Regions from separate parts of the Homo sapiens genome. Here all the other regions are reported to be linked to region 1. Evidence: microRNA targets listed by miRTarBase, many of them from high-throughput screens and not tested one by one. Region 1 holds a microRNA gene; each other region holds the end of a gene's coding sequence.

Evidence for each region. Region 1 holds the annotated microRNA hsa-miR-15a-3p (CAGGCCAUAUUGUGCUGCCUCA, at 1,398-1,419, opposite strand). A microRNA usually pairs through its seed, bases 2 to 8, with sites in the 3' UTR of a target mRNA and lowers its output. Matches are read on the target gene's strand: a 7mer-m8 pairs with bases 2 to 8, a 7mer-A1 pairs with bases 2 to 7 and ends in A, and an 8mer does both.
Region 2: miRTarBase lists SPTA1 as a target of hsa-miR-15a-3p. Seed matches in the 3' UTR shown: 7mer-m8 at 3,309-3,315.
Region 3: miRTarBase lists LONRF3 as a target of hsa-miR-15a-3p. The part of its 3' UTR that is shown has no 7-base or 8-base seed match.
Region 4: the mRNA of TAF1D is a reported target of hsa-miR-15a-3p. The part of its 3' UTR that is shown has no 7-base or 8-base seed match.

Annotation. Positions count from the first base shown.
Region 1 is chr13:50,047,733-50,051,798 of GRCh38, forward strand. MIR15A (microRNA 15a) reads right to left here and starts at 1,469; the gene lies at 1,387-1,469. DLEU2 (deleted in lymphocytic leukemia 2) reads right to left here. Exons shown (of 14, transcript NR_152566.1): 6 at 1,852-1,930. It overlaps MIR16-1 (microRNA 16-1), which reads right to left and starts at 1,329; the gene lies at 1,241-1,329.
Region 2 is chr1:158,607,860-158,611,925 of GRCh38, forward strand. It overlaps SPTA1 (spectrin alpha, erythrocytic 1), which reads right to left. Exons shown (of 52, transcript NM_003126.4): 52 at 2,845-3,530. The coding sequence ends at 3,405. OR10Z1 (olfactory receptor family 10 subfamily Z member 1) reads left to right here. Exons shown (of 2, transcript NM_001004478.2): 2 at 1-4,066. Among named protein-coding and RNA genes, the nearest start is that of OR10Z1, 4.6 kb to the left of the region's middle.
Region 3 is chrX:119,017,063-119,021,128 of GRCh38, reverse strand. LONRF3 (LON peptidase N-terminal domain and ring finger 3) reads right to left here. Exons shown (of 11, transcript NM_001031855.3): 11 at 2,774-3,594. The coding sequence ends at 3,439. Among named protein-coding and RNA genes, the nearest start is that of LONRF3, 44 kb to the right of the region's middle.
Region 4 is chr11:93,732,875-93,736,940 of GRCh38, reverse strand. It overlaps TAF1D (TATA-box binding protein associated factor, RNA polymerase I subunit D), which reads left to right. Exons shown (of 6, transcript NM_024116.4): 5 at 190-247; 6 at 637-1,374. The coding sequence ends at 780. It overlaps SNORD5 (small nucleolar RNA, C/D box 5), which reads left to right and starts at 3,641; the gene lies at 3,641-3,713. It overlaps SNORA18 (small nucleolar RNA, H/ACA box 18), which reads left to right and starts at 3,344; the gene lies at 3,344-3,475. It overlaps MIR1304 (microRNA 1304), which reads left to right and starts at 3,177; the gene lies at 3,177-3,267. It also overlaps SNORA40.

The DNA of each region.
Region 1 (4,066 bases):
TCATCCACCCTCCTCGGCCTCCCAAAGTGCTGGGATTACAGGCTTGAGCCACTGTGCCCAGCTCTACTTTTCTTTTCTTTTTTTTTTTTTGTTGAGACAGAGTCTCCCTCTGTCACCCAGGCTGGAGTGCAGTGGTGCGATCTCAGCTCACTGGAAGCTCCGCCTCCCAGGTTCATGCCATTCTCCTGCCTCAGCCTCCCGAGTAGCTGGGACTACAGGCGCCCGCCACCACGCCTGGCTATTTTTTTTGTATTTTTAATAGAGATGGGGTTTCACCGTGTTAGCCAGGATGGTCTTGATCTCCTGACCTGGTGATCCGCCTGCCTCGGCTTCCCAAAGTGCGTGAGCCACCGCACCTGGCTGTCTACTTTTATTTTTAATAAAAAATTTTAAAAATACAAAAAAGTAAAAAAAAAAATTAAATTATGTTGACATTTTATATCAATAAAACTACAATGATAATTTGGTCTTACTCTGAGTTAAATCTTGAATACAAAAAAGTAAACAAAGTAAACAAGACCTTATTTTTGACTTATCAAACAAAAATCTTTGGCTAAGGATTTAAGAAAACATTTTAATAAAAACATGAAAAAAATAGTATACCATTATAAAGTTAGAAGACATAAGACTAAGACCCCAATCTGTGATGTGTAGCAAATTATTTGAGTTTTGTGTTTCCTTAGCTATCCAATGAGTGGGTTGGTCACTTGTAAGGGTTTTTCTACCTTTAAAGTTATGGTTAAGTGTGACGTTTTGACAACCAGAATTTTAGGTATTTAATTCACATATTTTGATGGCTTTTCCCCTTCAGATATAAAGAAATATTCAGAAACAGTACTAAATATTGTCTTCTAAGCTCTGTTCAAAATGCTTAATATATTTTATATTTATCTGTAAAGACATATTTTAAAAGTAATTTCAAAACAAAGGGAAAACTAGAATTTGTTTTATCCCAAGTAAAAATCTGAATTAATGTCTATGTTGAATATAAATGTGCATTAAAATAAATTCCTCTAATGCTGCATAAGCTTTTTAAAAAAACTTGATGGCATTCAATACAATTATTAAATTGCAATTACAGTATTTTAAGAGATGATACATCTGAAAAATTAGTATTAATTCATTTTTACAGAATCATACTAAAAATAACAAGATTATCAATAATACTGAAAAGACTATCAATAAAACTGAAAACACATTAGTAACATTAATATACATTAAAACACAACTGTAGAGTATGGTCAACCTTACTTCAGCAGCACAGTTAATACTGGAGATAATTTTAGAATCTTAACGCCAATATTTACGTGCTGCTAAGGCACTGCTGACATTGCTATCATAAGAGCTATGAATAAAAAGAAATATATTTTCTTCAGAAGATCAGATCCTTGTATTTTTGAGGCAGCACAATATGGCCTGCACCTTTTCAAAATCCACAAACCATTATGTGCTGCTACTTTACTCCAAGGTTTTATTTTTTTTAAACACACATTCGCGCCTAAAGAATATAAAAAATATTTTCTTTCAGGAAAAAAAGAATGCATGTAAAAAAATCTATGTTTAAACATTATAACATTGATGTAATATGCATAATTATTTTTAAGGAGATTTTAAGTAGAATAATAAAACATTTCTACATCAAAAACTTAACTGAAGTCCATTCTGTGCCCAGCACAGTGCTATAGGTTAGGAAACACAAAGAATAAAATGAGGAAAAGAAAAGCATTTATTTGCTATGCCAACTTAACAGGGCAATACAACTAAATGCTTAAACTTTTGAATATATTCAATATATGAAGTTATTTTTCCTTGTATAAACAAACAAGTAAATTTATAAAATTTGATCTTTACCTTGGTAAAAGGAGAATTTACAAACATTTTGTTCCTTGCAGTACACCTTTCAAAAGACATCTTCATCAAATAGGTAAGACTTCACATCAAGGGAAAAACATGAAATGACATACAAGAGCTCAGTTTCAATAAACTTAAGCTAGCAAAATGCAAATATACTTTTAAAGAAAAATACTTTAATTCTAAATGTTAATTTTATTAAATATCTAATTAAGACATTTTAATTCCAAATATAGTTAAGAAAAAAAGCTCTAAACAAACTAATTCTCCCTTAAATAATTTGTTATTAATAATCTAAATATTTTACTTTCAACATTGATCTTCATACTAGAAGTTCTCTTAGAGTTGGATATCATTTGATACAGTAATTCTAAAATATGAATCCTTAAGTAATTCTAAAATATGAATCCTTGGGATGATGAGTTAATTTGGTACCCTGAGATGAGAAATAAAACAAATCCCATAGCTCTTAATCTTCCTATTCCCTGTTTCTGGCCCATTTACCAGGTAAGGAAGAAACTCCTAGTTTCCACTTTCTCAGATGTAGAAATGAAATTCCTTTTCTCTAAAAGATATCAGAAAATTGCCACCACTCTAGTGGTGCCACCATTCAAGCCTGGACAATCTTTTTTGCCCCATGTTCTCATCATTAAAATGACTATGCTAAAGTTACATCTATTACAGAATAGTAAGGTGATGTACACAACCAAAGCACTAAAATTTGCTCTTCCATTCTAATATCTAATTACTTATACAAAGCACAGGGTCACATTCCATATGAAATTTTTCTGAGTATTTTTCCCATTAATAAAAAATATATGTAGCTAATCTCCTATCTAAGCAACCTGGATTTCACATATAACTCTGCTCCTTATTGTCTCAAGTTTCTGCACAACGTTTTTTAAATTTTTATTTTTTCTTTTTTTAAGAGAGTAGTTTCCGTATCTTTTAGAGAAAAAGAAATTCATTTCTACATCTGAGTAAGTGGAAACTTTAGGAGTATACTTCCTTACCTGGTAAATGGACCGGAAATAGGTAGGGAATAGGAAGATCAAGAGCTACAGGATTTGTTTTACTTCTCATCTCAGGGTACTCTGTTGCCCAGGATGGGGTACAGTGCCATGATCGTAGCTCACTGCAGCCTTGACCTCCTGGGCTTAAGTGATCAGTCCACCTTAGCCTCCCAAGTAGCTGGGACTACAAGTGCACACACCACCATGCACAGCTCTTTACATTTTTATTTTATTGTAGAGACAAGGTCTTGCTATGTTGCCTAGGATGTCTTGAACTCCTGGCCTCAAGCAATCCTCCTGCCTTGGCCTCCCAAAGTCCTAAAATTACAGGCAAGAGCCACCATGCCTGACCTGCACTTTTTTTTTATTTTTTGAGACGGACAGGGTTTCACCATGTTAGTCAGGCTGGTCTTGAACTCCTGACCTCAGGTGATCCACCTGCCTTGGCCTCCCAAAGTGCTGAGATTACAGGGGTGAGCCACTGCGCCCATCCTGACCTGCACAATTTTTAACATGTAACCAAGATAAATCCGTTTGCATTCACTTGAGAAATATATAACATATATTTGTATTTATCAATTATATTAAGGAATTGTCCTTCAGGGTCCCCCTCATCACATACATTTTCCAGATAAAAACTTAAACATAATTTTTTTCAAATATAAAAGGTGCCTGTAAATTATTTAACAAATATTTTATTGAATATCTACTATGTGCCAGGCACTGTCCCAGTTATTACACTAGTTGGTAGTATACCAGATAGACAGTCTCTTTTCAGAAAGAGTAAAGTCATTTTAAGACAACTTAAAGTGAAGGATCTTAAGCTGAAGAATTTAGTGCCAGCAAAGGATGGTTTGAGTTTCAGAAAGACGTTTGGTTTTAAAAATGTCAAGATAACAGGAGAAGCGGCTTTGAGGCAGCAGATGAGTTCCCAGACACCATTAAGAAAATCGCTGGGGAGAAAGGACAGGTTTTTTTTTTTTTTTTTTTTGAGATGGAGTCTTGCTCTGTCGCCCAGGCTGGAGTGCAGTGGTGCCATCTAGGCTCACTGCAAGCTCCGCCTCCTGGGTTCATGCCATTCTCCTGTCTTAGCCTCCCGAGAAGCTGAGACTACAGGCGCCTGCCACCACGCCTGGCGAATTTTTTGTATTTTTAGTAGAGACGGGGTTTCACCATGTTAGCCAGGATGGTCTCAATCTCCT
Region 2 (4,066 bases), not on the chromosome of region 1:
AGGTTAGTTTAAAGCTTTGTTAAATGAACAGGTGGGTCATTTTTACTCCCACTGGGTGTCTTTCATCTTTTTATGTTTTTATTTTTTTTAATTTCAACTATTATTTCATATACAGTGGGGCACATGTGCTTATACATTCCTCATTGTGCTATTGACAGTAGCAAAAACATGGAATCATCTTTTTATATAGTTGTCCTCACTATCTCTGACTCTGTTACTTTGCCCTTTTTGTTTTGATTGATTTTCCAAGCTGGGTGCACTCTATTTCAGAAAATATATTTACTTCCTATTTTTTTTTATAACTGTTAATGTTCCCTGGTAGCTTCAGAATCTTGAGTGTCAAAGACCTTTCTCATTTGGGTCGCTTATCAAATTGGATACTGTTCTTTTGAATCTATTGCAGAACTATCTATTCTGCCTATTCCACTTTCCACATATAATGTGGTTATATATAGCGGCGGACATTATTAGAGAAAGTGTAATGAACTCACAAGACCGTCAGGCAGGAGTTTGAATCCAAACTCTTCAACTTACTAGCTGTGTGACTCTAGGTAAGTTATTTAACATTTTTTTCAGCTTCCGAGTCTTATCTTTACAATGGTTGGTGACTAAACAGGATCATGCATACAAAGAATTTAGCACAACCCTTGGATCATAGCGATCGTCCAATAAATTCCAGTTGCTACTATTAAAATGTGTGAAGGAAAAAGATATTGGCTTTTAGTTTAGGTAGAGTTTACTCTAGGTGGAGGATCAGAGAAGACTTCATGTCTTAAATAGTATCTGAACTTGTTCCTAAAGGATGGGTGAGCTTTGAATGCACTGACTGGGGAGAAAGTACATTCTCAGAAGAGAGAATGTAATAGCCAAAGGCTTGATGGTAAGACAATATAAGCCTAGTTTAATGTGTGTGAGTTATTCAGAGGGGCTGGAAACAACTCACAAATGATGCTGAGAAGTTAGTTTGAGTCATGACTTACTTGTTGAAATAATTTGAATACCTTGCTTCAGACATGGTCCTTTTGTCTATAGGAGATAAGGCACAGTAAAACGTTGAACAGAGAGAGGCATCTGGGAAGGGATTCAGGAAGATTAATCCAGCAGCAAAGGGGATGATAGATTTCAGTAGAGAGAAACCAGAGGCAAGGAGATCAGCAAGAAACCCATGGATATCAGCTTAAAAAAAGGCAAAGAGGCTTGAATATGGATAGTGACATTCAGAGACTGAAGGAAATCACAAACATGAGATTTTGAGAAGGTAGAATTCACAGGATTTGGCAGTGAGATAGAAGTGGGGCATGGCTTGAGAGACAAGGAAAGACCTTAGGCCGAGAAGATATTTTTCAGACAGAAATCCATATTTTTTCATGCTTTCAGGAAAGAAATACATCCTCTAATTGGAATTTGATGAAAACAATTTGAGAGGAAGGAAGCTAGAGCTCAGAGAAGAGAACAGGATGAAGACAAGTAGATGAGTTAGTCAGATAGCCAAAAGGGCCTCATCAGGGGAGAAAGGCCATCTACTCTGAAGTTCTCAATATTGGAAGAAGTAATGCCTCATTGCACTGAGGCCATGTGAGCAAATTCATTTCACCAGTTCATTCAGTCTGCCCAGCATAACATTGACTAAATGCACAGTGACGAATGGTTAGTAAGGATGTTTCAAGTATTGCTAAGTAATACTTAGAGGTCTAACTTCCACATGTAGTAGTCTTAAGTATGGAAGGGTATAAAATCACTTGGAGGGATTTTTCCAAATAGGTGTTTTTGGAATCTATCTAATTTGTTTCTACCTTGAAACAATTGATTTGGGATAGGGACAACATAATAGTCTTCAAAATCTCGTTTGGTGATTCAAATTTCCTCTCTTGATTAAGTATGTGACTACGCGCTTAGAAAGGGCAAACTCTTCTTCCAGGTACACACATTTGACCCACTAAATGACTAATAATTTGATTTAGGCCTTGAAAATTTTTGGCAGGGTTAGCATTGGGGGAATGGAATCACATCCACCTTTGCTTGTGATTATTTTCAGCACAAATAGTTTTAGACTATCCATATGTGGTAAGTGTGATATTAAACAATGCTAATTTTCGATGGCCTATATCTTTTCTAACTGTACTATTTTTGGTAACTTATAATCAGGCAATTTAGACATTTGTGAACATTAATTTTGAAAATACTTTCTGCTTGTTATATTCCATAGTATTTGACTATTTAAGAAAAGAATCACTAAAATACCTGTATGTTGTTAGTATCAATGATAACTTTTTAGCTTTAACCAACTTTTTGTTTAAAAAAGGCTCCTATGACAGGATTTGTCCTGCACAGATTCATTTCTATGCAGAGGAAGGGACTGAGACTTAAGATGGTAATCAAGTGGCAACATGAATGGATTGGTAAGTGGGGACTATTTGTGCAGAACGCTAGCAGTTTTATACACAGCAATTAAGATATCTAAGAATTCTCACCAGCAAATGACACCATTACCTTTTATAGATCAAATCAGAATGTCGGCATATAAACCTGTTCAGAATAAACCTGGCCTGAAAATTTTTGAAGATAGCATCACCTCTTCTTTTTTTAAAATTAATTCTTAATTTTATAAATAATTCTATTAACTGTTACTTTAACAGGATATTGAAGTATTATTTTTATTACATTAAAACTTAAGAGAAAATACGGGAGCTTGGAGGACAAGAGAAAGCCCTGCTATGCTGGAATTTTGTCTTTCTGAGAGTAATAACATCTACAATAATTTTGAAGTATGGAAAAAAAACAAGAAGAAAACAGGTGTTATGCTGATCTGTGTGTTGTTTCATTGTACAAACTAAAATATTCATGTTCCCCAGAAAATCAAATATCTTTATTTTCAAATTTAAATTTAAACACATTCCAAAGTTTAAAAAAATTGTTTGAAAATTGCCTTGGATTTTATTTATCTACTATACCATGGCCCTTCTTTACAGTAAAATTAGCTGCCCACTCTTATATGAGTACAGTTCCCAGAAATATAGAAGCTCAACATTTTACTTAACTTTGCCCCAAAAAATATTTTTAAAAAGAATTACTTTATTCTATAATCGGAATAAAGCAAAATGATAAAGACGTGCAAAACAGAACAAATAAAAATAGAAACTTTGACACCCCTCAGCAGTGACTAGTTGCATACAAAATAGCTTCCACTCCTCCAACTCTATTAACCTTTCTATCTCCCACCCTTGAGATTTTTTAAGATCCTACAATAAATGTAATATGCACACAAACACAAGCACACACACACACACACACACACACACACACACACGAGGCCATCTTTATCTTCCACATTTGCCTGTACTCTTTGCCCCCCAGTAAATTTCCCACGACACTAAGATTTTCTACGATCCACGAGGAGCTGCTTATTAGTTGCCAAAGTAGGAATTGGTGAAGCCAACGTAGTCATAGCCAGAGAGATGGCTTCGACCCCGTGGGTCCATATATTGCTGCATATGTGTGGCACAGAATGACACTTGCTCTGGGGTAAGGGCCTGAAAAGTATAAAAAGAGAAAAATACAGTTATAGGGATTCAAAATAGCTGGTTCCTTGGGGCTTCCCATATTACGCCATAAATGCAGGAGATGGAGAGTCTCTGGAAGACGCAAGCCCTATTTCTATTACACACAATTTTTATCTCATAAATTTATAATTTCTAATGAGTAACTTAACTTTTAATCTCAGCCCTTTCTTGAAAAAGAGAGCTTACTCACTTTGATTATTCTGTAAATCTCATTCCCTAAAGTTGTTTTATTAAATAGAAGGAATTATATGCCTAACAACATTTGTTGACCACTTGATCTATTTCATCTTCCTGGCTGCTTTGAGATGTGGGGACTAGCATGTTTTATGAGTAAGGTAAAATACTCAAGAAGGTAGAATAACTCACCAGTGGTTACACTGCCAGAAAGTGGTAGAGCTGGGACTTGAACCTATGATCCTCTTATGCCAAAGAGTTCCTCTATTCACTGTGCTGTTTGATTACCAAGTGGATCCCTAAAGACTCCAATAAGTTAGCGTGTGGGTGGG
Region 3 (4,066 bases), not on the chromosome of region 1:
ACTAGACAAAATATTTAACATAGTGGAGGCTCAGTTTTCTCATTCATAATATGGGGATAATAACTGCTCTCGCAGGGTTGGTATGAGAAATAAATGATGTAATGAGCTCAGGTATGTGAGATCACTTGGCTCAGTACCTGGTACATGGGGATCTCAGTACATTTTTTGTTGAATCTGTTACTTTGGGCAACATAAAGAAATACTATCAACTAAGAACAGAAGTCACAGATTGTAAACTCTCATCATCTGGGATGGGTAAGGTTCTCAATACATTTTGGAGAACAGGGAGTGAAAAGTTGGTTATTCTAATGGAGCTAGAACTTAAGGCTTCCATTCTATCAGAAATCCTAGGCTGGGTGCGGTGGCTCACACCCACGCCCGTAATCCCAGCACTTTGGGAGGCCCAGGCAGATGGATCACCTGAGGTCAGGAGTTCGAGACTAGCTTGACCAACATGGTGAAACCCCATCTCTACTAAAACTACAAAAATTAGCCAGGCGTGGTGGTGCGTGCCTGTAATCCCAGCTACTTGGGGGGCTGAGACAAGGGAATCACTTGAACCTGGGAGGCGGAGGTTGCAGTGAACTGAGATCGAGCCACTGCACTCCAGCCTGGGTGACAGAGTGAGACTCAGACTCGCACACACACACACACACACAAAAGAAAGAAAGGAAAGGAAAGGAAAGGAAAAAGAAAGGAAGGAAGGAAGGGAGGGAAAGAGAGAGAGAGGGAGGGAGGGAGGGAACAAAAGAAAAAGAAAGGAAGGAAGGAAGGAAGAAAGAAATCCTAGACCTACATAGGGCACTACCTTCTAGCCCTTATTGAAGCAGGAAAAAAATTTCTGGTATAGGATTGATCCCTATCTCTGACCCTCATTTGTTCTCCAGTTATTTCACTTTCACACACATTTAATTCCCAAAAGAATTATCTGTAAATCATCAAATTATGGGTCCAAAAATCAGTGGTATGTATTCCCCCAACTAAGTTTAAAGGGGTTTCAAGTGGATATTGTGTGTAAAGGCAGTGTTTTATACAAATGTAGGCCCTTGATGATATTCTATAACTATGACTAATCTAATAGTAGCTATTATTTCTTGAGTGCATTCTAGGTGTGAGACACTGTGCTAATTGATTTACACATTATCTCATTTAATTTTCGTAACAACCCTATATGCAGAACTTATCACTATCATTTCATAGATTAGAAAACTGAGGGTTGGCAAAAGTTAAATCAATTGCCAAAAATAATATATCTAATAAGTAGAGAAGCTTAGGGCCTTTTTCTTTGTTGCATTTACACTAGATAACCAGAAACTATTAGGATTGTGTTATGACCACATGGTCTGGGAACCAGGTGGGAGGGGGAGTCTTTTCTGCTCCCTGAGCTTTGTGGAGTTTGCTTGCGCAGAAATAATGCCTATACTTCCGCCTATTTCTGTTCTTCACCTGCCCAGACTAGCTCCAAACATCAAATCTGATAAACACAACACTCTGGCAACATAATGTCCATTAAGTGAGTGCAGAAAAGACCATCTGGTTTCTGCTTACATGCATCTTTTTTATGTTGTCTGGATCATCTCATTCTCCCTTTCCTGTTTCTAGCTACAGGTGGTGATGGGAGAAGTAAGAATTACACTCTCACCTTAACAGAGTGATGGGCTGTGAATGAATGATGCAAAAATCATTCACTGTCCAAAATCACATGGTATAATTTGCATGAAGGTACTAATGGCACAATTCACTTCCTCCCTGCTCTAATCGTTTCACTCTGCCATTATAACACTCCCATACTTGTGGTACTTTACAGGCTGTCCTGCCACTGAAGGACTCAAACTAGCACTAAGCAAGCTAAATCAGGGCTTACTCTTACTCCTCACCCTATATTCTCCCCATACATTGAAATATTTCACCCATGCAACTAGAAGCAAAGGCAGTACTTAGGTAAAATAATAGATTATCTGGTTCCCTTTTTTTTTTTTTTTTTTTTTTTTTGAGACGCAGGTTTGCTCGTTGCCCAGGCTGGAGTGCAGTGGTGCAATCTCGGCTCACTGCAACCTCCATCTCCCAGGTTCATGTGATTCTCCTGCCTCAGCCTCCCAAGTAGCTGGGATTACAGGCATACACCACCAAGCCTGGCTAATTTTGTATCCATTTTTAGTAGAGACAGGGTTTCATCATGTTAGTTAGGCTGCTCTCGAACTCCTGACCTCAAGTGATCCGCCTGCCTCGGCCTCCCAAAGTGCTGGGATTACAGGCGTGAGCCACCGTGCCCGGCCATCTGGTTCCTTTAAAAAGATTTTTATAGGGTTCTACTCTATTTGTCTTATTTACATTTTAATAATAAAAAGTCCTTATCAAGTGTTTCTGTCCAGGTCTTGATCCTCAGAACCCCGGGGAGAGGTGGGTTATGGAGGCTAGTTGGGCATGACTGTGATGTGCTAAACTGAACACCATTTCCTCTGAAGAGTTAATTATGATCCTGCCCAAAATCCGATTCCTAACTGCACTGGGGAAAAATTAGATACACGTACAATTAGATTGCTGAAGTAAATGCCTATAATAAAAATAATTCTTTCAGCTTTGTTCTGTATTACACACAGAAAATGAATTATTTTACTTTACCTTGGCATATACCATAATCTAGGCCAAATCCCTTAAGTATTTTATATTGTTTAGTTCAAACTGAAAAAAAAAAGTGGACTCTGAAGACAGATGATCTTAGCATCATTCTGAACTTCTTTTAAGCATCCATTTGGATAGATACGGAAATGGTCTAAGAACTAGTGTCATTGTAGTAAAAAAAAGATAAAAGCAAAAACTGCACACTTCTAGTATTGTTATTTCCCCCTAGGTACATGGTAAACCACATCAATAAATAAAGCAATGGACTTTTCAGCAATGTACGCTTAAATAGTTACAAACATACATGTAGAAAAAAGGATACAGTAGTGCAAAAAATAAATTATTAAAACAGAAAGAAGTATGAACATTATTTTACACAATGCTCTATAAAACCTGAACCATTTGGAATGAGACCTCAAGTCAGTGAAATTATACAGCAACATTATTAGTATCTTTGTTTTCACATTTCAACCACACAGTCATTGATCTATGAAAGAAAGAATATTAAAGCAAAACCACTTTAAACTTTTGGAAATTTTAATGTTAAAATCAAATTATGTTTTTCTGGGCTCTTAAACACCTCTGCTGTTTATGTAGTTATGCAGCATGTCAAGAAGCATCTTAAGACAGAAAGTTTCAAATAGGTCACATTCTTTTGGTCTTTCTACTCAATTTCTCTCTGTGATCAACAGCAGGCTGATGCCTCTGTTTGACACCCCCTTCTGTTAAGATATTATTGCAATTAGATATATTTACAAGAAGACTCCCCCCGACGGCAGTGGGGAAGGTGGGAGCTCCTCTTCGGCAATCCACTCACTAGTTTTGGTTTCGGGATATGAAGGCCAGGACTCGTCGAATACCATTCAGTCTGTCCTTTAAGGACCTCATTGCTAGGAAGGGGAGCTGAGCTCGGCTTTCCAAGGGAAGAACTGCTAACATCCACCAGCACCAGGCTGGGCCATTCGGGTTCATCTGCAACAGAGAAACACAATGGAGTCATCCTATTCCCATCCAAGAACATCAGTCTGCAGAGTTCCAAATGCTCAAGGTAAAGACCCCAGGTAGAACAACTCCATGTGGCAGATTGCTAATTGACCCTATATCTATTTTCCCCCTTATTTTAGCAGGGCATATAGCCACCCAGAAAAAAGACTGCATTTCTCAGCTTCCCTTGCAGCTAGGTGAGGCCATGAGACAAAGTTCTGGCTAATGAGATGTAAAGGGAAGTGATATGTGTAACCTCTTGGTCATGCTCTGGGAAAGAAGCATATGCCCTCTGCCTTCCTCTTTCTCTCCCTTTCCCCTAGCTAGAACATGGACGTGGTGAGGATCAGCCTTTCTCAATCAAGAGGATGAGGGAGACATTTTAAGGATGGTAGAGTTTTGTGATGAAGGAGCCTGGGTGCCTGAATGCTCTTGTGGAATAGAGCTGCCCTAACTGTCC
Region 4 (4,066 bases), not on the chromosome of region 1:
AATTGGGATTATTACAGTTGAGCCAAGCTTGGCACACCGTTCATCTAGAATTCTCCAGAACACAAAATTCTCAAATTTTGTGTTTCCTTTGACTAGTATTGCAGTTTCAGTTATATTTCAGAGTGGAATATACAACTAATTAGGTCATCGAAGATTCTGTCATCTCGATGATAAATTTTAATATTACAGAGCAGAGGATGAGGATGCAACACATCTTGAAGATAACGAATGTGATATCAAATTGGCAGTAAGTGACTTATTTTTTTCCTATTCCATTTTGGGAAGGCAGGAGTTGGTTGATACAGAAGGAATTATATTTAGTTTTTCTCTTACACTTCATTTAACTTTTGAAAAGCTCTATAAGTTTACTGCAGGAAATGCAAGAAGGAAAATAATTTTTTAGAGACTTGATAAAGAACATGGGGTTTTCAGTACTATTTTTAATAAGTAGCATTCTGATACATATTATTGCTAGTTAGGATGTCAAATGAAAAAATAAGCAATGTTAATTTGGATTTTTAACATCTACATGTAGTCTCTAGGTTATCTGAAGTAATCCAGGGCATTCAGCTATATGTAATTACTAAACTATTTGAGTTATTGCTTAATCCATGATTTTTTGTTTGTTTTATGCAGGGGGATAGTTTCATAGTAAGTTCTGAATTCCCTGTAAGACTGAGTGTATACTTAGAAGAAGAGGATATTACTGAAGAAGCTGCTTTGTCTAAAAAGAGAGCTACAAAAGCCAAAAATACTGGACAGAGAGGCCTGAAAATGTGACAGGATCATGAATGTCAAAGGTGAAGCATATAGAAAAAACGACTTCATAGAAATGAATAAAGATAAATGTGGATATATGTACCAGTCTGGTGGTGAAGAAATTCTGAAACCCAGAACTTTATAACAAGAAAAAAAATTTTTAACCCTGTGAAGAAGTTTGTGAAAGAAACTTGTGAAGTAGTAATAATTAGAAAAAAAACCATTAAAACACCAGAGAAAATACATAGAAAAATTTGAGAAATTGTCATTTGATTTCTGAATAAGAGCTTACAGGTGTCCTGTGAGTATTGAAACAATGAAATGTAGTGATTTTAATTTTGAAAAGAAAATCTTAAAGTAACTTGACACCCAACCATCTTGAAGAGGGGATTTGAAATGCTGTAATTTTATCCCAGCTTTGTTCAGCCATGACAAGTGACCTGTCAGATGCTTAGTATTGTAATAACCTCATTTCCCTTTCCAAATTTAGAGTATCTTTAATACTATTTTTTTTAGACAGAGTCTCGATCTGTCACCCAGGCTGTAGTGCAATGGCCGCAGTCTTGGCTTACTGCAACCTCCATCTCCCGGGTTCAAGCGATTCTGCCTCAGCCTCCTTAGTAGCTGGGATTACAGGCGTTAGCCAGCACACCCAGCTAGTTTTTGTTTTTTTAGTAGAGACAGGCTTTCACCATGGTCTCGAACTCCTGACCTCAGGCGATCCGCCTGCCTTGGCCTCCCAAAATGCTGGGATTATAGGTGTGAGCCATGGCACCTGGCCTAATACTACTTTTAACTACCATTTTCACTTTTTATTAGTTCAAGAAAAGGCATACACATTTATTCAACATGTATACCTGGGGAGAACCAGTCATTACCCCGATGTTCATTATTTTGATCACCACGATAGAGCTGACTACTCTGCTATGTAGTGCATTTTGGGACTGCACTTATGTATGTTTTTGTTTAACGTGGACAAAGACTTACAGATAGGTGCAAAAAATAAATCCTCTTTTGCAACCCAGAACTCATTGTTCAGTATGAGTTTTGATACATATAAGAAGGGATATTATGATACCTGAGACAGTTGATTGATGGGAGTATTGATAGCCATAAAGGTTGGTTCCAGGCCAGGTGCAATGGGTCAAGCCTGCAATCCCCACACCAAGGTGGGAGTATTGCTTGAAACCAGGAGTTCAAGACCAGCCTAGGCAAGAAAGTAAGAAACACATCTCCACAAAAATTTAAAAATTAGCTGGGTACTGGGGCATGTGCCTGTAGTTGGAGTTACTCAGAAAGGGGGGAGGCTGAGGCAGAGTTGGAGGCTGCACTGAGCTTTGATGGCACCACTGTACTCCAGCCTGAGTAACAAAGACAGACCCTGTCTCTTAAGAAAAAAAGGTTGATTCCAGGCCTGTAGAATAGATAAACAGCATGGGATATGAGGGAAATCCTCAGCAGTATTAATTTTGCATTCCAATTTCATGTTGATGATATACACAATGGCTTTTTGTTTTAAAGGCTTTTATCTTGAGAACATGGTGTCTGGAGTTAAAGGTATGTCTCAATTTGAGTTTTCACATCATATTTGTTTATGTGTAGGAAACAGTATGTTGTCAGAGCAAGTTTCATTTTATTCAGGGACATTTCTACCATGCTTTTAATTCCCATTTATACTGATTTCTGAAAAGAAGAATCCTAGATTCACACATTTTATAGTGATGTGTCAGATTCATTTTAGTTGCAAGCATTAGAGGGTCCTGAATTTGTTAGTTTGTAGCAATAATCAGAACTTTGGATTTCCTACTTGAAGCCTACAGCATTATTTTGAATTAATGCACAATCTAAAATGAGGCAGAGGATTTTATGGTTTAATGCAAAATATAGTATAATAAAAGATGATTACACAGGTCATAAGAATTCATAAATTTGAATGATGTAGAGTTTGATTAAAAGTTATATAATGCCAAAGTCGTAACTTACAGGCACATTATATTCCTGTATTTTATAATGGATGACAATTAATTTTGAGCCAAGAATTAAAATTTGCTGAAATCTTCGAATTGGGAAAACAACATCCTCTGTTGCAATACTGAAGTTCATAACAACAGTTAGACTTTAAACTTAAATCTTAAGTTTAAATCTTTTTCCTTTGGTTCATGTAAAGGAGCTACTTGATGTTACTTTTTATTTATCATTCCTCTGGCTCCTAAGCACAACGTGATTGTGAAATTATTGTTTTTGTGATTAACGTAGTAGGAAGTTTCTGCAGTTGGCAATATTGTAAGAGCATATTGCAGTTTCTGCTCATAATTTCTTTCCTATGGAGTGTTAGACTTTGTTATTTATGTGTATAAATACTAGCTGGACACAGTGGTGCCTGTGGTCCCCAGCTACTCTGGAGGCTAAGGCAGGAGAAACACTTGAGCCCAGCGGTTTGAGGCTACAGTGAGATGTGATCCTGCCACATCTCACTGTAGCCTCGAACCCCTGGGCTCAAGTGATTCAGCAAGAATCACACGATTTTTAAAAGACATGGCAGATCCTGTGTCTTTAAAAAAAAATCAAAACCTTGTAAATAGTGGTTGAGGTCTATCCCGATGGGGCTTTTCCTGTAGCCTGCACATCGTTGGAAACGCCTCATAGAGTAACTCTGTGGTTTTACTTTACTCACAGGACTATTGTTAGATCTGTGGGAAGGAATTACAAGACAGTTGCTAAAAGTTTGAAAAAGACGGTTGCTAAACGTTATGAAAAACCAGATAATCTACTTTTTTACCTTAGGTATTGGCATACTCCACACATCTGTACCATTCTTGAGTGATCGCTTAGGTAAGTTTTAATTGGTGACAGTATAATCTTTTGGGAAATAATGATTACAGTTCAGATGATGAATTTAACTGTTCAACTGCTGAATGATAACGGGCATGAACTAAAACTTAATTCTGACAGAGCTGGATATGGCTGTATAATAAACTGGATCTTAAATTTATACTTGGGTTTTAGTTTTAATAACTGGAAATGTATCCTTTCTAAATCTTTAATTGGTACTTTCTATAGGAATGAATGTGATTTGAACTCATTCATGTTGAGAGGTAAGTAAAATATTTAACTTATAATAATCAAGGACTCAAAAGATGAAAAATAGAAATTACACCATCCCAGTATTTCAGGTATAACACAGAATTAGTAAGATACTGGCAAAAATATTACAATGTATATATTTGTATAGAGAAGGAAAATGAAGAGACTGCATGTCTATACCTACCAAACGAAACTACCTGTGTTCTTTGCATCATTATTCAAC